Linked DNA regions of Homo sapiens: region 2 is linked to region 1. Evidence: fine-mapped expression QTL. A gene starts in region 1. The other region holds a variant in brackets. All regions are shown on one strand. Distances are from middle to middle. Region 1 holds the start of SCNN1A (sodium channel epithelial 1 subunit alpha). Region 2 overlaps LOC124902866 (a long non-coding RNA gene).

Region 1 (8,000 bases):
CAGTGGGCAGCCCCCAGTGTGAAGTGGCTAATTAGCTCCAAGTAGTAAGAATAAAGAGTTGCATTTAACTAAGTAACTGATTCTTATCCTGGAAAGGATAGAAGTGAACAGGGAAAAGTGAAGAAAATTTAGATAAATTAATAGACCACAAATAAATGGGTTGTCAGAGGAAGTTAGGATGTTTGAAGTTTTGCAGATGCTTTTTCGTAGCATATCCCGCTCTGTCAAAGATAAACTAGGAAAGACGCCAGTTCTGCTGTCTTCTGCAGACTGGGTCAGCAAACAGTGACCGCTAGACACTGAGGTCACCAAGATGAATACGCCTGGTCTCTGTCCTTGTGTTGCGGGAAGTCAGGGACCCCAAACGGATGTATACGTACAAACACACATACATCAGGATAATAGTAAATAATAATAATAAATAATAGTAAACAGTGGTAAGTGCAGAGATAGGCTCTCCCTAGGAGGGTGGAGTGATTACTTCCGTCATCTCCTGTCCGCGGAGAACAAGAGGCAGGAAGACCCTTTGCACTCATAACCCTCATCCCATGGCAGCCCCTCTGGTTTCACTTCTCTCCCTGCAGCCGTGCATATTTTATGGCCACACCACAGGGTTAGAGGATAGCTGGTGTTGGGAGGGGAAGGCAGCCCTGGGTTGGCGGGAAGGGCTGGGGCTCTGGGGGAGTCTGGGGGTAGTCCTGGGAAGGCAGGGGGTCCTTCCAAGACAGAGTCTACAAAGCTCTTGACTTCTTATAGAACAAAACTGTACTTCTCTCAAAGTCAGAGAAGGAGAACTGGGCTTGGAAAGGAGTGGCCTGGTTTTCAGTCTGACCCCACCCCTAACTCCTGGGTGACTGTGGCCAAGTCACTTTGCTTCTGTGGGCCTCAGTCCCCTCATGCATGAAGCAGGGGGCTAGATGCAAGGTCAGCTGGAAAAAGTCTTTGTCCATCTGGGTTGCCTTACCCACCCCTTCTTGCCCTTTCATTTTCTCAGGTAAGATCACCGGGGCCCATAGAGGTCAAGTGCCTTTCTCAAAGTCACATAGTTTAAAAGCAAAAATAGGGGCTGAGTATGGTGGCTCACACTTGTAATCCCAGCACTTTGGGAGGCTGAGGCAGGAGGACTGCTTGAGCCTAGGAGTTGGAGGCTGCAGTGAGCCATGATCATGCTGCTGTACTCCAGCCTAGAGGATAGTGCATGATCCTGTCTCTAAGATAAATAAGAAAATAAAAGCAAAAATGGAAGTTGTAGAAACATACCTATAGCATGGTCTCTGTCATAAAAAAGAACTATATATTTTGTTTTTTAAAAATACATGTAAGTTTATAAAGGCACACAAAAAGATATAGACAGATATACAAATTATGGTGGCTCCCCTTTGGGGAGGGAAAGGAAGGGGACTAAGGGAAGCTCTATATACTTCTGTATTGCTGAAAAATTGTACTGTGACAAAAACATATTTGTGTATTATTTGTACACTTTAAAAGATCATCTTTAAAATGGACTTCTGACCAAAGTCCAGGTCTCAGATTTCTATTTTCCTCACAACACCAAGCCTGTTCTAGCCCGCTCCAGGTCTAGAATGCTGCAGCACTAGGCTCGCATTGCCACTCCCATACCCGGCAGGACGTGGCAGGGTCACCACCCTTTGGCTCAGCCCAGACCAGGCATTGCAATTCTTCTCACAGAGCCCTTGATATGAAAACTATTTGCCATGCTGCCTTAAGCTAGTGGTTGGATTTCAGGCATGAGCTGGCAAATAGAAAAGGCAGGGAGGTGCTTTTCAGAACCTTTGAGATCAAACAGCCAGGGTGCTGAGCACCTTATTGCAGGGAGGACCATGCCCAATGTAAGGACCTGGCTCAAGGGAGACTGGAGTTTCTAGGGGTCTCTGGGATATGTGGGGCAGTGGGGACAGTGCAGAGACCTTTTCACAGAGCCAAGGAGATAACCCAGCACCCAGAGAGCAGACGAATCCACGGGCTCTGTGTGGGAGTGAGGGAGGCCTTCCCGGCTTTCACATCCAGGTGCACCTGAGCCCCGATCCCCCATGAGTCTGTCTCAGGAAGTAAATGGCAAAAGCGCTAAGTAGATAGCCCCAGAGGAGGAGGAGAATTCTGAATTCTGTTTATAGCTCTGCTCCTATTTTGTTTTCTAACCTCAGAAAACTGATTTATCCTTGGGAAGGGTCAGTTTCTTCATTAGGACAATGAAGAAAAATCCAGCTGTCCCTTCCAAGGGGAGGTATCATGAGCAGTATCAAGGTAAGCAAGGGAACCTGGTTTGGAATCCTGGTTGACACCGGCTTTCACTTTAAGAAGTCGCAAGAGACTGCCGCAAGAGAGGAAGCCACAGACCAGGTTGGACCCTGAGCCTGGAGTACTGCCTTTTCTCTTCTTTGCCTGCTAAACTCCTTGCTTGTCAAGATTCAGCAGAGATGACACCTTCTCTGGGAAGGCTTCCTGAGTCTCCTGCAGTGAGCCCCTAGGCTCCCCTAGCCCTTGGCTCTTATGTCTTATCTCTGAGAAATCTGAGATCTGCACTTTTGTTAGAAGTCCGTTTTAAAGACAATCTTTTAAAGTGTACAAATAGAAACCTTATCTTATTGTATTGCAGGCCTATCTCCTCCCCCGGTGTGTATCAATGCTCAGGCTGGGCCTTTGTCTGCTGGCTTGTGGAGGGAGGCAGGACAAGCCAGTGACCACATTCCTGCACTCTGGGCTGCCTCCTGTGGGGCCCGTGAGGAAGCGGCAGCCTTCCCTGCCGCGTGCAGGGCCTGGGTTGTGTGGGTGGCTCTCCCGAGTCTCCTCCAGCCCTTTTTGGGTCTGATTCTCTGACCCTCCTCTCTCTCCTTGCTCACCACTTGGCACTCCACTCCTTATCCTTTTGCTGCATTAAGTTTGGAAAGAGATTTTGGAGAAAATATAGCCCATCAACGAATTTCTCCTCCTCCCAGGGCCTGTCTAGGCGTGTGCCATGCCCACCCTCTTCCTTTCCAGCGCTGGCCACATCCTCCCTGCACCTTCAGTGCCTGCTTTCCCTGCCTCTTCCTGGGCTCCGGGTCTGTGTCCACAGTGTCCTGCGTGGCCCTCGCGCTGCCTCTGGTTGCCCACATTCCTGCAACTCTGTGACCACAGCAGGGGCGATTACACATTCCTGGCCTGGCAGCCAACAGTGTAAAAAAGAACAGAATGTCCTAGGGCCCCGCCTAGCCCCCAGCTTCACCTGGGCCCCTCCCGGGTCTGGACAAGGTTGGAGGGGGTGGCGAGGAATCAGCAGGAAAGAGGAGGGACCAGGAGGAGGCAGACGCATCCCACCTGAGTGCGCTGCTCCCACTTAGTGAGCGGGGAGGAGACCTGCAGAGACCTCTTCTCTCTTCTCTGCAGGGCCTGAGGGTGAGGCTGACCTGTGGGTGCCCTTGGAGGGCTGCCCACTTGCTGAGCCTCTAGCTCCTGGAAGCACACTTGGGACTCCCCCCTTGCTCTCCTTCCTGGAGACAGACTCCCTTTGGTGCTGGCTCCTTCTATTTGCCCCCACCACTGCCCCCCACCTGCCTCTACTCACTCAGTGCCCCTCCTCCATCCCTATCTCTCTGTCCTTCGCTGTCCCTCTCTATTGTCTCCCTCTTTCTGCCCTCCTGTCCTCCCGGTTCCCCACCCAGGCCCTCTCAGCCTGGCTGGCCCCTTCTCCTTGTGTTGCCCTCCTAGCTGTGGGCTCAGGATCCTTCTACTTGTTCAGATCTTTGCCCCTCACCTGCCATCCTGTCCCCCAGCCTCCTTGCCTGTCTGCGTCTAAAGCCCCTGCCCAGAGTCCGCCTTCTCAGGTCCAGTACTCCCAGTTCACCTGCCCTCGGGAGCCCTCCTTCCTTCGGAAAACTCCCGGCTCTGACTCCTCCTCAGCCCCTCCCCCCGCCCTGCTCACCTTTAATTGAGATGCTAATGAGATTCCTGTCGCTTCCATCCCTGGCCGGCCAGCGGGCGGGCTCCCCAGCCAGGCCGCTGCACCTGTCAGGTGAGGGGGAGGAGAGGTTTGGCTGCCAGATTCAACTGGAAAGGAACCAGTCCCAGTCCAGCCGCAACCTGGGAGTGGGAAGCTGGAGGCAGCCCAGACCTCCTGGAGCCCTGCAGTCCTGGGGCAGAGACAGAATCAGGACACAGCTCGAGGTCAGGGCCAGAGGCTGGAGCTGAGGGCCTAGAGTGAGAGGGGGCAAGGCAAGGGGGGGAGAGGAAGAGAGGCAGGATTAGAGAGAGGAGGCAGGCCAGAAAGAGGAGAGCAGGAGAGACCCAAAGAGAAACAGAAGGCAGATAGAGAGGGAGTGAGAGGCAGGAGCTGAGACACAGATCCTGGAGGAAGAAGACCAAAGGAAGGGGGCAGAGACAGAAAGGGAGGTGCTAGGACAAAACTCGAAAGGTGGCCCTATCAGGGAAGCAGAGGAGAGGCCGTTCTAGGGAAGCCCAGCTCCGGCACTTTTGGCCCCAACTCCCGCAGGTCTGCTGGCTCCAGGAAAGGTGGAGGAGGGAGGGAGGAGTGGGAGAATGTGGGCGCAGGGTGGGACATGGGCATGGCCAGGGGCAGCCTCACTCGGGTTCCAGGGGTGATGGGAGAGGGCACTCAGGGCCCAGAGCTCAGCCTTGACCCTGACCCTTGCTCTCCCCAATCCACTCCGGGGCTCATGAAGGGGAACAAGCTGGAGGAGCAGGACCCTAGACCTCTGCAGCCCATACCAGGTCTCATGGAGGGGAACAAGCTGGAGGAGCAGGACTCTAGCCCTCCACAGTCCACTCCAGGGCTCATGAAGGGGAACAAGCGTGAGGAGCAGGGGCTGGGCCCCGAACCTGCGGCGCCCCAGCAGCCCACGGCGGAGGAGGAGGCCCTGATCGAGTTCCACCGCTCCTACCGAGAGCTCTTCGAGTTCTTCTGCAACAACACCACCATCCACGGCGCCATCCGCCTGGTGTGCTCCCAGCACAACCGCATGAAGACGGCCTTCTGGGCAGTGCTGTGGCTCTGCACCTTTGGCATGATGTACTGGCAATTCGGCCTGCTTTTCGGAGAGTACTTCAGCTACCCCGTCAGCCTCAACATCAACCTCAACTCGGACAAGCTCGTCTTCCCCGCAGTGACCATCTGCACCCTCAATCCCTACAGGTCGGTTAGTCCCTCTGCCCCTTCCCTGGTGCCTGCGCCTGGAAGGGTGGTCCAGGGTGCTGAGGTGCTCACTGGGCAGGCAGAGCCTCAGACCTGAGGGTGGGAACTGACACCCCTGTCCCAGGTAGAGCTCACTGCTGGCAAAATGAGGAGCCTCCAGCTTACTGGACTGGCGTCCCTGCCCAGTGGAGCCATCCTAGCACCCCAGGCTCACCCAGAGTGTGGTTGTTGGAGCAGCATTGCCCTCCCCTGCCCTCTCTTCTCCTTCCCTCCCATTCCCTTCTCCCTCCTGCAAGTGGGAGGGAGTGCTTGCAAAAGGGCAGGGGTGTGCTCAGCTGCATCCCTTTTCTGGAGCAAGATGCCAGCAAAGTATAAGACCTCGTCCACCTCAGCAGGAGAGTCTGATGGAGGGGTGAGGCTAGGTGAGGGGAGGCGAGACCGTGCAGGTGCTGTGGAGGTGGTGCTGTCAGTCTTTGTTTAGAAGGGGAATTTATTATGGAGAAAGCAAAGAGGGGGATCGTGGAGGTTAGGGCTGCAAGTGAGCCCAAAGGCTGGGGGCAGGGGCCTTACAGAACAAGGAGAATGGGTCAGGCTAGAGAGCAGCTCCTTGTGAAGCTCTTCCCCCAAAAGACCCAGGCTAAAATGCTGCACTGTTGACCTGCCCAGGTGCCTGACCTTTACGTGCTTGGGTGTGTCCTGAACTTTTGGGTTTCATCGGTGCTCTTTGCCAATGTTGGGTCTGGAAACCGGAGCAGGTGGTAAGCGTGGAGAAGAGAGGAGGGCAGGGCTGAGTGCTTTTGTATACCTTTTATTTGTATTCACTCAGCCATGCCACACCTTGGGAACACCTGCTTCAAGCCAGACACAGGGCTAGGCACCTGGCAAAATGGATTCATGAATAATTCATAAGCCCTTTATTGAAGGCCAGGTAGTTTGCTGTGTTGTGGAGACAGATAAAATAAGATAGCAGAGACAGGCATATAAGCCAGTAACTGTGGCACACTGGGATAAGTATGATAAAAATGGTGAGTTAGTGTACCTTCAAGGAGTGCAAAATCTTTATGGGTGTGGGTGTGAGTGTGTGTGTGCACATATTGGTATGTGTGCGATTTTGGATGCTGGGGATTGGTCATGCTGTGGGTGGAGGCCCCTTCGTATATTCCATCATGTCCAAAGGTGCGTTACGGACTAAGAAAGGGTGGGACGTCCTGTCCTGGAGAGAGAGAGAAAAAAAAAAGCCAGGTCATTTCGTTGATTAACGTCTGTATAATGTCCCAGGTAGGGACCATTTCCTTAGGAAGCTGCCGTGTGCACAGACGCTGCGAAGGTGTCTTGGGTATCTCATTTCATTCTCACATCTTACAAGCCCGGTGCTATTGTTATCCCTATTTTACACTTGAGGAAACTAAGGCAAAGAGAGGCAAGTCACAACATCACAGAGAGAGTGACTGAGCTGTGACTCATCCTGTTTACGCCTAATCCCAAAACTCTGCCTCTTTTTAATACCCAAGATGTGGGGCTTTGAGTGAATGAAACTTCCAGTCAGATGTGGCTTCCGCCTCATTTCAGAGCTCTCTTGGGTCCTTCCTCTTAGCCTCATTTTTCTCCCCCTGCTGCCTGCAGACATCTTCACCCCTTTAGGCCTTGGTGGAGGGGAGGGACCCAGCAGGAAGGGGAAGGACAGCAGGCGGGGCAGTGGGCACTCAATAAATATTTGTGGTTGAAAATATGTCAGTGAGAGATGGAAAGGGAGGGCAGGGGTGAATCGGGTGAGGCCTGCACAGTTCTTAGGTTCTGCTGGATGCGGGGCCCTAGACAGTCCAGGAAAAAGCCGGGGAAAGGAAGCCATAAGCCCTGCCTCTGGGGCCTGCAGGCTGGGAGGCAGCCATCTGCCCAGAAAGAATCCCTCCTTCTTGAAGGGCTGCTGTGGGAGTCGGGAGGGAGAGAACACCTAGGAGAGGAGAGGAGTCGGGGAAGGGCTCCCCAGCACAGCGGGAGGAGATGCAACACCCACCAAGCACTACACACTTGACCTTGTAGTCACATTATGTGCTACACCCTAAAGCTGGGTGCTTTATAGACACTCTCTCATTTAATACTGACAAGTCCAGGGAGGTGGGCAGTATTATTCCCATTTTTTTAGATGAGGAAATTAAGGCTTGGCAAGAGGAAATAATTTGAGCAAGGGAACATACATTATTTATTTATTAAATTAAAAAATAACCGCTGGGCATGGTGCCTCACGCCTGTAATCCCAGCACTTTGGGAGGCCAAGGCAGGCATTGAGGGATCTGGGATGGAGCTCAAACAAGGTTGTTTAAAAGAGCCCCTCACTTGAGGCCAGGAGTTCGAGACCAGCCTGGCCATCATGGTGAAACCCCCGTCTCTACTAAAAATACAAAAATCAGCCAGGTGTGGTGGCGCACGCCTGTAGTCCCAGCTACTTGGGAGGCTGAGGCAGGAGAATCACCTCAGGAGGCCGAGGCTGCAGTGAGCCGAGATCACGCCACTGCATTCCAGCCTGAGCCACAGAGTGAGACACAGTCTCAAAGGAAAAAAAAACAATAATAATGTTTGTATATATTTATGGGCCAGACTTTTTACAAATGAATCTAAATCAAATGATTCTGCTTTAAATTATTTAATTCTCACAACACACCTTGGAAGTAGGTCTCATGATGACTCTTATTTTATGGATGAGGAAACTGAGTCCCAGAGAGTTAAGTAACTGCCTCAACTTCAGACAGACAACAAGTGGTGAAACTGGGACTCAAAAATCATCCCCCGCCCCCCGCCCCACCCCCACCCCCACCGTCCACCCTCACCCCCACCCCCCGCCCCCCCGCCACGC
Region 2 (10,356 bases), 230 kb after region 1:
TTCCTAGTTTACTAAGAGTTTTTATGATGAATAAGTAAATCTGGCAAATGCTTTTTCTGCAGCTATGGAGATGCCTATATTTTTACCCCTTAATTTGTTAATGTAGTATATGATTATGATACAATTTTAAATGTGAAAACCACCCTAAATTTCTGGAATAAATAAAACTTGGTCATAACGCACTCTCTTTTTTAATAAAACGGTTGGATTCACTTGCGAGTATTTTGTTTAGGACTTTTGCACCTATGTTCATGAGTAAGTTTTGCCAGGGATTTTCTTTTTCTTATACTGCTCATGTCTGGTTTTGGAGTCAAAATTGTATTGGAGACATCATCTGAATTAAAGCTAATTTTCTTTGTGGCAGAGTCCACTGATGGTTCTCTAATGGTTATTCTGGCCTTCTAACTTTTAACAACAAAACCCCAGTTTTTAGCTGGATACAAAACTGAAGATTATATTTCCCAGCCTCCCTCATAGGTAGATATGGCCATGTGATTAAGTTTTGACCAGTATCCCTTCATCAGCACCATCGTCAGTCAATTCTTTGTAGTTTTGAGTCCTGAGATTTACGATTCCAGCTTTGAGAAATAGGTCTTTGAGGGCATTTGTTTCTAATAGTGATTAATTTCATTAAAACTAAAAACATAGGCAGGGCGGGGTGGCTCACGCCTGTAATCCCAGCACTTTGGATTGCTGAGGAGGGCAGATCACGAGGTCAGGAGTTCGAGACCAGCATGGCCAACATGGTGAAACCCCATCTTTACTAAAGAAAAAAAATTAGCTGGACATGGTGGCGGGCACCTGTAATCCCAGCTACTTGGGAGGCTGAGGCAGGAGAATTCCTTGAACCTGGGAGGTGGAGATTGTAGTGAGCTGAGATTGCACCATATCGCTCCAGCCTGGGCCACGGGACGAGACTCCATCTCAAACAAACAAACAAAACTAAAAACATGATCTAGTAACTAGATTTCTTGATTTTTTAATACATCAGGGTAAAACAGAAATACCTTCATTGCTTCTTGACCTATATTTGAAGCTTCTGTAGATACCTTCACATAGTAGGAAGTCTAGCAGTTCTCAAGGCCCTACACCAGCCATTATATGCATGAAAGAAGATCAACTGTGAAAAATTTTTGGCTTTTAAAAATGTATTTACCAGGCGTGGTGGCTCACGTCTGTAATCCCAGCACTTTAGGAGGCTGAGGTGGGTGGATCATGAGGTCAGGATATCAAGATCATCCTGGCTAACACGGTGAAACCCCATCTCTACTAAAAATACAAAAAATTAGCCGGGCGTGGTGGCGAGCGCCTGTAGTCCCAGCTACTCGGGAGGCTGAGGCAGGAGAATGGTGTGAACCCGGGAGGCGGAGCTTGCAGTGAGCCAAGATCACGCCACTGCACTCCAGCCTGGGCGACAGAGCGAAACTCCGTCTCAAAAAAAAAATGTTTTTAAAGGTTTCTTCAATTATCAGAAAGTTTGCACCTATGTATTAGTTCATAATAGGAACTAATATGACTTTCATATTAAACTGATAATATTCTGCATTTTATATGCATTATAGCAGAATAGACTGAATTTTACATTTTTCATGATGATTTCTTCTTTGACCATGAATTGGAAATATATTTAGAAGTTTCTAGCCATATGGGAATAAAACATAATTATATTTTGTTATTTGCTTCTAATTAAATGTATTATGCAGGGAAACACATTGATACTGATTCTTTGAAATCTGTTGAGAATTGCTTTGTGGTTTAGTACTTAGGCAGTTTTTTTTTGTTTATTTTTGTTTTGTTTTGTTTTGTTTTAGACAGTCTCACTCTGTCGCCCAGGATGGAGTGCAGTGGCGTGATCTCGGCTCACTGCAAGCTCCACCTCCTGGGTTCATGCCATTCTCCTGCCTCAGCCTTCTGAGTAGCTGGGACTACAGTCGCCTGTCACCATGCCCGGCTAATTTTTTTGTATTTTTAGTAGAGACGGGGTTTCACCGCGTTAGCCAGGATGGTCTCGATCTCCTGACCTCGTGATCCACCTGCCTTGGCCTCCCAAAGTGCTGGGATTAGAGGCGTGAGCCACCGCGCCCGGCCTGGTCAGTTTTTATATATGTTCCAAATGTGTCATCCCTAATTGCTGGGTAGAGAATTCTATCTATGCCCAATAAATCAAGCTGATTAATTGTATTGTGCAAATTTTCTGTCTTTTCTAATTTTTTGTCTCTTTGATCTAACAGTAACGGAGAGAGGTGTGTTGACATCTCCCACTATGATGGCAAATATGGCAACTTCTCCCTGGGTTCTTTTAATTTTTATAATTTATATATTTTAAACCTATTTTATTAAGCTTATTTTTTAGTTTTATAATCATATCTTCTTATTTTACTAGGTTTATAATAATCTTAGTAGATTGTATTTTTTGTCATTATTTAATGTCATTCTCTAGCCATAATAATGCTTTATTTCCCCAAAGTCTATTTTGTCCCATATTACTAACAACTACTCCAGCTTTGCTTCAAACACTTTCATGTCCTTATATTTTAGGTATGTCGTTTATAAACGTCATGGAATTATGTGGTATCCACCTTTCAAGATAGCCCTCCAGTGAATCTTATTTCACCAGTCCCACCCTTGTGTAGTCTGATGTTGAGTAGGGCTGACTTGTATAACCAATAGGATATTGTGGAAATAAGACTCCTGAGGCCAGATCATAAAAAAACCTTGTATCTTTCATTTTTCTCTCTCTTGGACTCTTGCTCTGGGAAAATCTGGTCACCCAGTGCAGCAGGGAATCCAGGCCTCCTGCCAGCTACAGCACCAGCTGGGCAGCACCGTGCATGAGCCGTCTTGGAAGTGGATCTTCCAGTCCCAGTCGTGCTGGCGCCTTTGGCTGACTGGGCCTTAGCCAACCTCTGCGGGATCCTGAAGCCGAACCACTGAGGAAGCCAACCAATTGCAGAGGAATATTCTTCAGCTTCTACAAAGAATCCGGCCTCTTATTTTTCTTGAAACTTACAGCTGTCTTGGTGTGTCTTATTTTTTTCCCCTCTTGATAGAGAAGTGCTACAAAGAAATGTTTTTGTACTTCAATAAAAAGACGAAGTAAGTAAAAAGATAAATGACAACTGGTTTGGACCTCATGTTGGAGATGTGATAGGGTGTAGAAGGGACTGGAAACTGGAGAGAACATGCCCATCCCAAGAGAGAAGACCCGCCTTTCCAACAACTTCCAGTCTTCCAAGTGAAGCTGGAAATCCACATTTAAAAACACAGATAAGAATTACACACACACGACTGGATGCGGTGGCTCACGCCTGTAATCCCAGCACTTTGGGAGGCCGAAGTGGGCGGATCACGAGGTCAGGAGATCTAGACCATCCTGGCTAACACGGTGAAACCCCGTCTCCCCTAAACAAAATACAAAAAATTAGCCGGGCATGGTGGCGGGCGCCTGTAGTCGTAGCTACTTGGGAGGCTGAGGCAGGAGAATGGCAGGAACCCAGAAGGCGGAGCTTGCAGTGAGCCGAGATCTCGCCACTACACTCCAGCCTGGGCGACAGTGTGAGACTCCGTCTCAAAAAAAAAAAAAAAAAAAAAAAAATTACAAACCACACACACCCTGGCTACTTTGGGTAAAAGAGTGCCAGAGAGGGTCAGTCACTTTCTCAAGATGGAGGAGGAAGCAGATAGAGCCTCAGACCTCCAGGACTCTATCTGAGACTTTTTTTTTTCTTTTTTCTTTTTTGAGATGGAGTCTTGCTCTGCCGCGCAGGCTAGAGTGCAATGGCGCAATCTCCACTCACTGCAACCTCCGCCTCCTGGGTTCAAGCAGTTCTTCTGCCTCAGCCTCCTGAGTAGCTGGGATTACAGACGCCAGCCACCACGCCCAGCTAATTTTCGTATTTTTAGTAGAGACAGGGTTTCACCATGTTGGCCGGGCTGGTCTCAAACTTCTGACCTCAGGTGATCGCGCGCCTCGGCCTCCCCACGTGCTGGGATTACAGGCATGAGCCACTGCGCCCAGCCCAAGACTTCTGTCATTTCCAAGATTTGTGATAAAATATATACGCTATTAGTTCAAGTCAAGAGTGTGATTATGTCTCACTGTTTGCTTGCTACAGGTCAGTATCTTAAACACTTTGGCTTTCTTCTTTGAGCAAGAGGTTCCATCCTTGGTGAATGGCTTGAAGGTGCTTGAAGGTGGCAGCTTGCTCAAGGCCCACAGTGGGGGATGCATTACATTTTCTGTGCAAATTATAGCAGGTAATTCAGTTTCACAGAGAGAAGCCAAAAATTTAGAACAACAGAAAACTTTGTCCTGTAGTATTTGAGGAAGAGGAATAAGATAAGTGTATTTTCCTTAAATCAACTCACCATCTGTAGTATGAAAGTCCATTTTAAATAGTTAATGATACTTATGTTTCAGGAAGGCACAGAGACAAGGAGAAAGTTCTCACGGCGTGTGAATGTGTGAGTAAAAGCCTCCTGTGAGAGGATGTGGCCTGGTTCACAAGAGAAATTTTCTGTGTCTCAAAGTAGAAGCCTGGAACTGTG[G/A]ACTAATGAAATTATAGGCAGGGATTGCTTGGTCCAGCTCACATCATCCCAAGGCCTTTCCCCACCAATCAAGTCTGAACTAAAAGGATTTTGCTTGTATCTTAGAGTAAATCAGGAAGAGCTCAGCCAGAGACCCTGGGGTCCTTCAGTTTTGCAAGATGCAAATTGGGAGAATCCTAGAAGAGGTGTCCTTCCCTAAAGTCCTTTCCAACTGTGAGACCTGATGCCTTCACTTTGGGATTTGGGAGCTGAACCATAAGGAAGACTGAACAGGATCAGGAATAGGCAGTGGGAGCAGAGAGCACTGGGCCAGGAGTTGGAGGGCAAGGAGTAAGCATAGGCTGTTTGACTCCCTCGCTGCGTGGCCTCTGGCAAGTCACTTTGTTACAGGACTCCACCATTTACCCAAAGGTAGCCGTTGGGTCAGGGTTTCTGTACTATAGTGCCTTCTGTGTTCGCCAGAAATATGTTACAGGAAAGGGGGTCCCGATCCAGACCCCAAGAGAGGGTTCTTGGATCTCGAGCAAGGAAGAATTCAGGGTGAGTCCGCAGTGCAAAGGCAAAGCAAGTTTATTAAGGAAGTAAAGTGGTGAAAGAACATCCACTCCATAGACACAGTAGGACGTTCCCGAAAGTAAGAGGAGGAACGCATCCAACCTACGTACAATGCTTGTATATATGGGGAGATGTGCTCTGCTACAAGGTTTGTGATAAAGGATTAATTTTCTTAATTACTATATTTTGCAGGAATTGATATTATTATCTTTAAAGCAAAATTAGGAATACCTTTGTTCAGCTGGGCACAGTGGCTCACGCCTGTAATCCCAGCACTTTAGGAGGTTGAGGTGGGTGGATCATGAGGTCAGGAGTTCAATACCAGCCTGGCCAACATGGCGAAACCCTGTCTCTACTAAAAATACAAAAATTAGCCGGGTGTGGTGGTGGGCGCCTGTAATCCCAGCTACTTGGAAGGCTGGGGCAGGGAATTGCTTGAATCTGGGAGGCAGAGTTTGCAGTGAGCCGACATCGTGCCACTGCACTCCTGCCTGGTCAACAGAGTAAGACTCCGTCTCAAAAAAAAAAAAAAAAAAGGAATACCTTTGTACCAGGTTATCTGGACACTCCCAAGTCTGGGCCTGTTCAGTAAACACGATTAATTTGTTCCCTTAACTGTAAACATGCAGAGGCTAATAATGCCTAACTTTCTGAGAATGCAGCCCAGCAAGTCTCAGCCTCATTTTCCTAGTCCTCACTCAAAATGGAGTCATTCTGGTTCGAATGCCTCTGACAACTTTGCTGAGCATTCACTTCTTCATGTGCAAATTGGGAACAATACTGCCTGCTCTTGCTAACTCATGGTGGTAGCGTAAGGCTCTAATGAAGTCTGGTCTGGGAAATTGCCCTGAAAACCAAAATGCATCGCAGAAAGGAGTAACGTTTCATCTGACCCCTTCCTACCTCTCCAGCCCTGTCGTCCACCATGCTTCCCCTGATCTGTGTTGCAGCCACAGACTGTCTTTCAGTGTCTTGGTAGGTAGCCTCCTCCTGCAGCTGGGCCTTTGCACGTGCTATTCCCATGGCCTGAAGTGTGCCCACCAACCTTTGCCTGGCTTTACTCCTACTCATCCCATAGAACTCAGTTCAGTTGTACCTCTTCAGGGAGGACTTCTCTGCCCACACCCCCCGGCCCTCTCAGTTTGGGTGGGAATCTATTACTTGTATGCCTCCCTGGCACCACGTGTCTTACTCTCATCACTGTTTGTAGTTATAATTTGTTTGGATTAATGTCGGTCCTGTCAACAGATCATAAGCTCCATGAGGGCAGAGAATGGTGTGTTTTTTCACTCACCTTCATATCCCAAGAGCCTAGCCCAGATACCAAATAAATACTAGCGGTTGTAGAGTAGGTCCGGGAAATCTAGGTAGCAGGGATTCTGAATTTAGGTTTCTGGATGAGGGTGCTGGGAATGAGACACCCAGCAAGAGAAGTCTCCTCTCTGAATTAGCCTGGTGTTTGCACCTTTTTTCCCCTCCCTTTAGGCAAAGCTGTGCTACACTATGTAATGTCATGCTGGTGTCTGTCTGTCTGTATGTATTTATTTGAGAGTGAGTCTCTTTCTGTTGCCCAGGCTGGAGTGCGGTGGCGTGACCTCGCTTCACCGCAACTTCTGCCTCCCGGGTTCCAGCAATTCTCCTGCCTCAGCCTCCTGAGTAGCTGGGATTATAGGCATCTCCACCATGCCCGGCTAATTTTGTATTTTTAGTAGAGACGAGGTTTCTCCATGATGGTCAGGCTGGTCTCGAACTCCTGACCTCAGGTGATCTGCCTGCCTCAGCCTCCCAAAGTGTTGGGATTAGAGGCATGAGCCGCTGCACCTGGCCAGAAAAAAATCTTTAATCCTGCAGCTGAGGAGTGGAGATGGGAGCCCAGTCTCAAACCCATCTCCCTGACCTACAAAAAGTAAGGGTTTATGTAGCAGGGAAGAAATGTAACAATGCCTACGAAAACAGGAACTAGGGAGGGGCAAGGAAACAATCATGATGAATGAGGGGTCTGGGCATTTCCTTGTCTGGATGTGGTGATCTGGTGAGTTTCAGTTCTTTGATACTTTTTTTTAGAGGCCTGAAGGTCTTTTCCTGAGGAGGGAACTCAGATAAAACAAATTAAGTTTTTCAAGCTTTAAGACTAGAAAAAAGGCCGGGCGTGGTGGCTTTAAGACTAGAAAAAAGGCCGGGCGCGGTGGCTCACGCCTGTAATCCCAGCACTTTGGGAGGCCGAGGCAGGAGGATCACGAGGTCAGGGATCGAGACCACCCTGGCAAAGACGGTGAAACCCCATCTCTACTAAAAATACAAACAATTACCCGGGCGTGGTGGCAGGCGCCTGTAATCCCAGCTACTCGGGAGGCTGAGGCAGGAGAATGGCGTGAACCCGGGAGGCGGAGCTTGCAGTGAGCTGAGATCGCGCCTCTGCCCTCCAGCCTGGGCGACAGAGCGAGACTCCGTCTCAAAAAAAGAAAAAAAAAAAAAAAAAAAGACTAGAAAACAAAGACTAGAAAAGTCAATTTCGATGCTTATCCAAAAAAAAAAAAAAAACCTATCTATGGGATGATTGGGTCGGTTTCATTATAAACACAACCACACTCCTCTCATAGTCCCTCAGCCTCTCCCCTGTCCCTAGCCCTAATCTGTTCTCCATTTCTGTAATTTATATAAATGAAATTATACAGGATATAACCTTTGGGGATTGGCTGTTTTTCACTCAGCATAATTCCCTGGAGATTCATCCACGTTGCGTGTATCAGTAATTTGTTCTCTTTTTTTTTTTTTGAGACGGAGTCTCCGTCTGTCGCCCAGGCTGGAGTGCAGTGACGCGATCTCGGCTCACTGCAAGCTCCGCCTCCCGGGTTCACGCCATTCTCCTGCCTCAGCCTCCCGAGTAGCTGGGACTACAGGCGCCCGCCACCACGCCCAGCTAATTTTTTATAGTTTTAGTAGAGACGGGGTTTCACCGTGTTAGCCAGAATGGTCTGGATTTCCTGACCTCGTGACCCGCCCGCCTCGGCCTCCCAAAGTGCTGGGATTACAAGCATGAGCCACCGCGCCCAGCCTCTTCCAGTTTTTGTCATTGCAAATAAAGCTTCTGTGAACATTTGGCCGGGCGCGGTGGCTCACGCCTGTAATCCCAACACTTTGAGAGGCCGAGGCGGGCGGATCACGAGGCTAGGAGATCGAGACCATCCTGGCTAACACGGTGAAAACCCGTGTCTACTAAAAATACAAAAAATTAGCCGGGCATGGTGGTGGCGGGTGCCTGTAGTCCCAGCTACGCAGGAGGCTGAGGCAGGAGAATGGCATGAACCGAGATCGCGCCACTGCACTCCAGCCTGGGTGACAGAGCGAGATTCTCTCTCAAAAAAAAAAAAAAAAACCTTCTGTGAACATTCACGTACAATATTTAACATGAAACTATTTAGATTTCTCTGGCATAAATGCCCAAAAATGCAATAATAGGGTTTAACCATTGTTTTTTGTTTTTGTTTGAGACAGAGTCTCACTCAGTCACCCGTTCTGGAGTGTAGTGGCACTATCTTGGCTCACTGCAACCTCCGCCTCCCAGGTTCAAGCAGTTCTCCTTCCTCAGCCTCCCAAGTAGCTGGGATTACAGGTGCACGCCAAAATGCCTAGCTAATTTTTTTTTTTTTGTATTTTTAGTAGAGATGGGGTTTTACCATGTTGGCCAGGCTTGTCTCGAACTCCTGACCTCAAGTGATCCGCCCACCTCGGCCTGCCAAAGTGCTGGGATTACAGGTGTGAGCCACCGGGCCAGCCCGTTTGTTTGCTTTTTGAGACAGGGTCTTACTCTGTTGTCCAGGCTGGAATGCAGTGGTGCTGAGGTAGGAGGCAGGATCTTACTCTGGACCAGATTGAAGATTGGCTGAAACAGGGAAGAGGCGGGGAAAACACCTCTCCATGACATGCCCACCAGTTGGCTGGGCATGGTGGCTCCCGCCTGTAATCGTAGCACTTTGGGAGGTAGAGGTGGGCGGACCACTTGAGGTCAAGAGTTTGAGACCAGCCTGGCCAACATGGTGAAACCCCATCTCTACTAAAAATACAAAAATTAGTAGGGCGTGGTGGTGGGCACCTGTAATCCCAGCTACTCAGGAGGCCGAGGCCAGAGAATCACTTGAACCTGGGAGACAGATGTTGCAGTGAGCTGAGATTGCACCATTGCACTCTAGCCTATGAGACAGAGCAAGACTCCAGCTGGGGGGGGGGGGGGGGGGGAAAGACCTGACAACCAATTCCATGTCAGTTTACCATTGCCATGGCAACACACAGAAGTTACCACCTCTTTTCATGGCAACCACGTGAAAGTTACCACCATTTTTCTAGAAATTTCTGAATAACCCATACTGCGTCTGGAATTGGTGGGTTCTTGGTCTCACTGACTTCAAGAATGAAGCCACAGACCCTCGTAGTTAACAGCTCTTAAAGTGGCACATCTGGAGTCTGTGTCTTCTGACTTTCAGATGTGTTCAGAGTTTCTTCCTTCTGGTGGGTTCATGATCTCCCTGGCTCAGGATTGAAGCTGCAGACCTTTGCGGTGGGCGTTACCACTCTTAAGGCAGTGCATCTGGAGTTGTTCGTTCCTCCCGGTGGGCTCGTGGTTTTGCTGGCCTCAGGAGTGAAGCTGCAGATCTTCACGGTGAGAGTTACAGATCTTAAAAGCAGTGTGCACCCAGAGTGAGCAATAGCAAGATTTATTGCAAAGAGCAAAAGAACGAAGCCTTCACACTGTGGAAGGGGACCGGAGCGGGTTGCCAATGCTGGCTCCGGCAGCCTGCTTTTATTCTCTTATCTGGCCCCACCCACATGCTGCTGATTGGTAGAGCCGAGTGGCCTGTTTTAACAGGGCGCTGATTGGTGCGTTTACAATCCTTGAGCTAGATACAAAGGTTCTCCACGTCCCCATCAGATTAGTTAGATACAGAGTTTCCACACAGAGGTTGTCCAAGGCCCCAGCAGAGCAGCTAGATACAGAGTGTCGATTGGTGCACTCACAAATCTTGAGCTAGACACAGGGTGCTGATTGGTGTGTTTACAATCCCTGAGCTAGATATAAAAACTCTCCACGTCCCCACCAGACTCAGGAGCCCAGCTGGCTTCACCTAGTGGATCCCGCACCTGGGGCTGCAGGTGGAGCTGCCTGCCAGTCCCGCGCTGTGCGCTCTCATTCCTCAGCTCTTGGGTGGTCGATGGGACTGGGCGCCGTGGAGCAGGGGGTGGTGCTCGTCGGGGAGG

What was found. PIP is the estimated chance that this variant, and not a neighbour inherited with it, causes the effect.
Region 2: its variant is fine-mapped to the expression of SCNN1A in pancreas (GTEx, PIP above 0.99).

The regions. Positions count from the first base shown.
Region 1 is chr12:6,371,517-6,379,516 of GRCh38, reverse strand. SCNN1A (sodium channel epithelial 1 subunit alpha) reads left to right here and starts at 3,954. Exons shown (of 13, transcript NM_001038.6): 1 at 3,954-4,012; 2 at 4,680-5,149. The coding sequence starts at 4,734. It overlaps LOC105369626 (a long non-coding RNA gene), which reads right to left. Exons shown (of 4, transcript XR_931591.3): 4 at 5,942-6,362. It also overlaps a transcript of LTBR not described here. RefSeq lists enhancers at 2,522-3,126, 4,943-5,547.
Region 2 is chr12:6,142,509-6,152,864 of GRCh38, reverse strand. LOC124902866 (a long non-coding RNA gene) reads left to right here. Exons shown (of 2, transcript XR_007063189.1): 2 at 2,780-3,113. Among named protein-coding and RNA genes, the nearest start is that of VWF, 23 kb to the right of the region's middle. RefSeq lists an enhancer at 9,961-10,356. The variant G/A (reference allele first, on the strand shown) is at 4,549.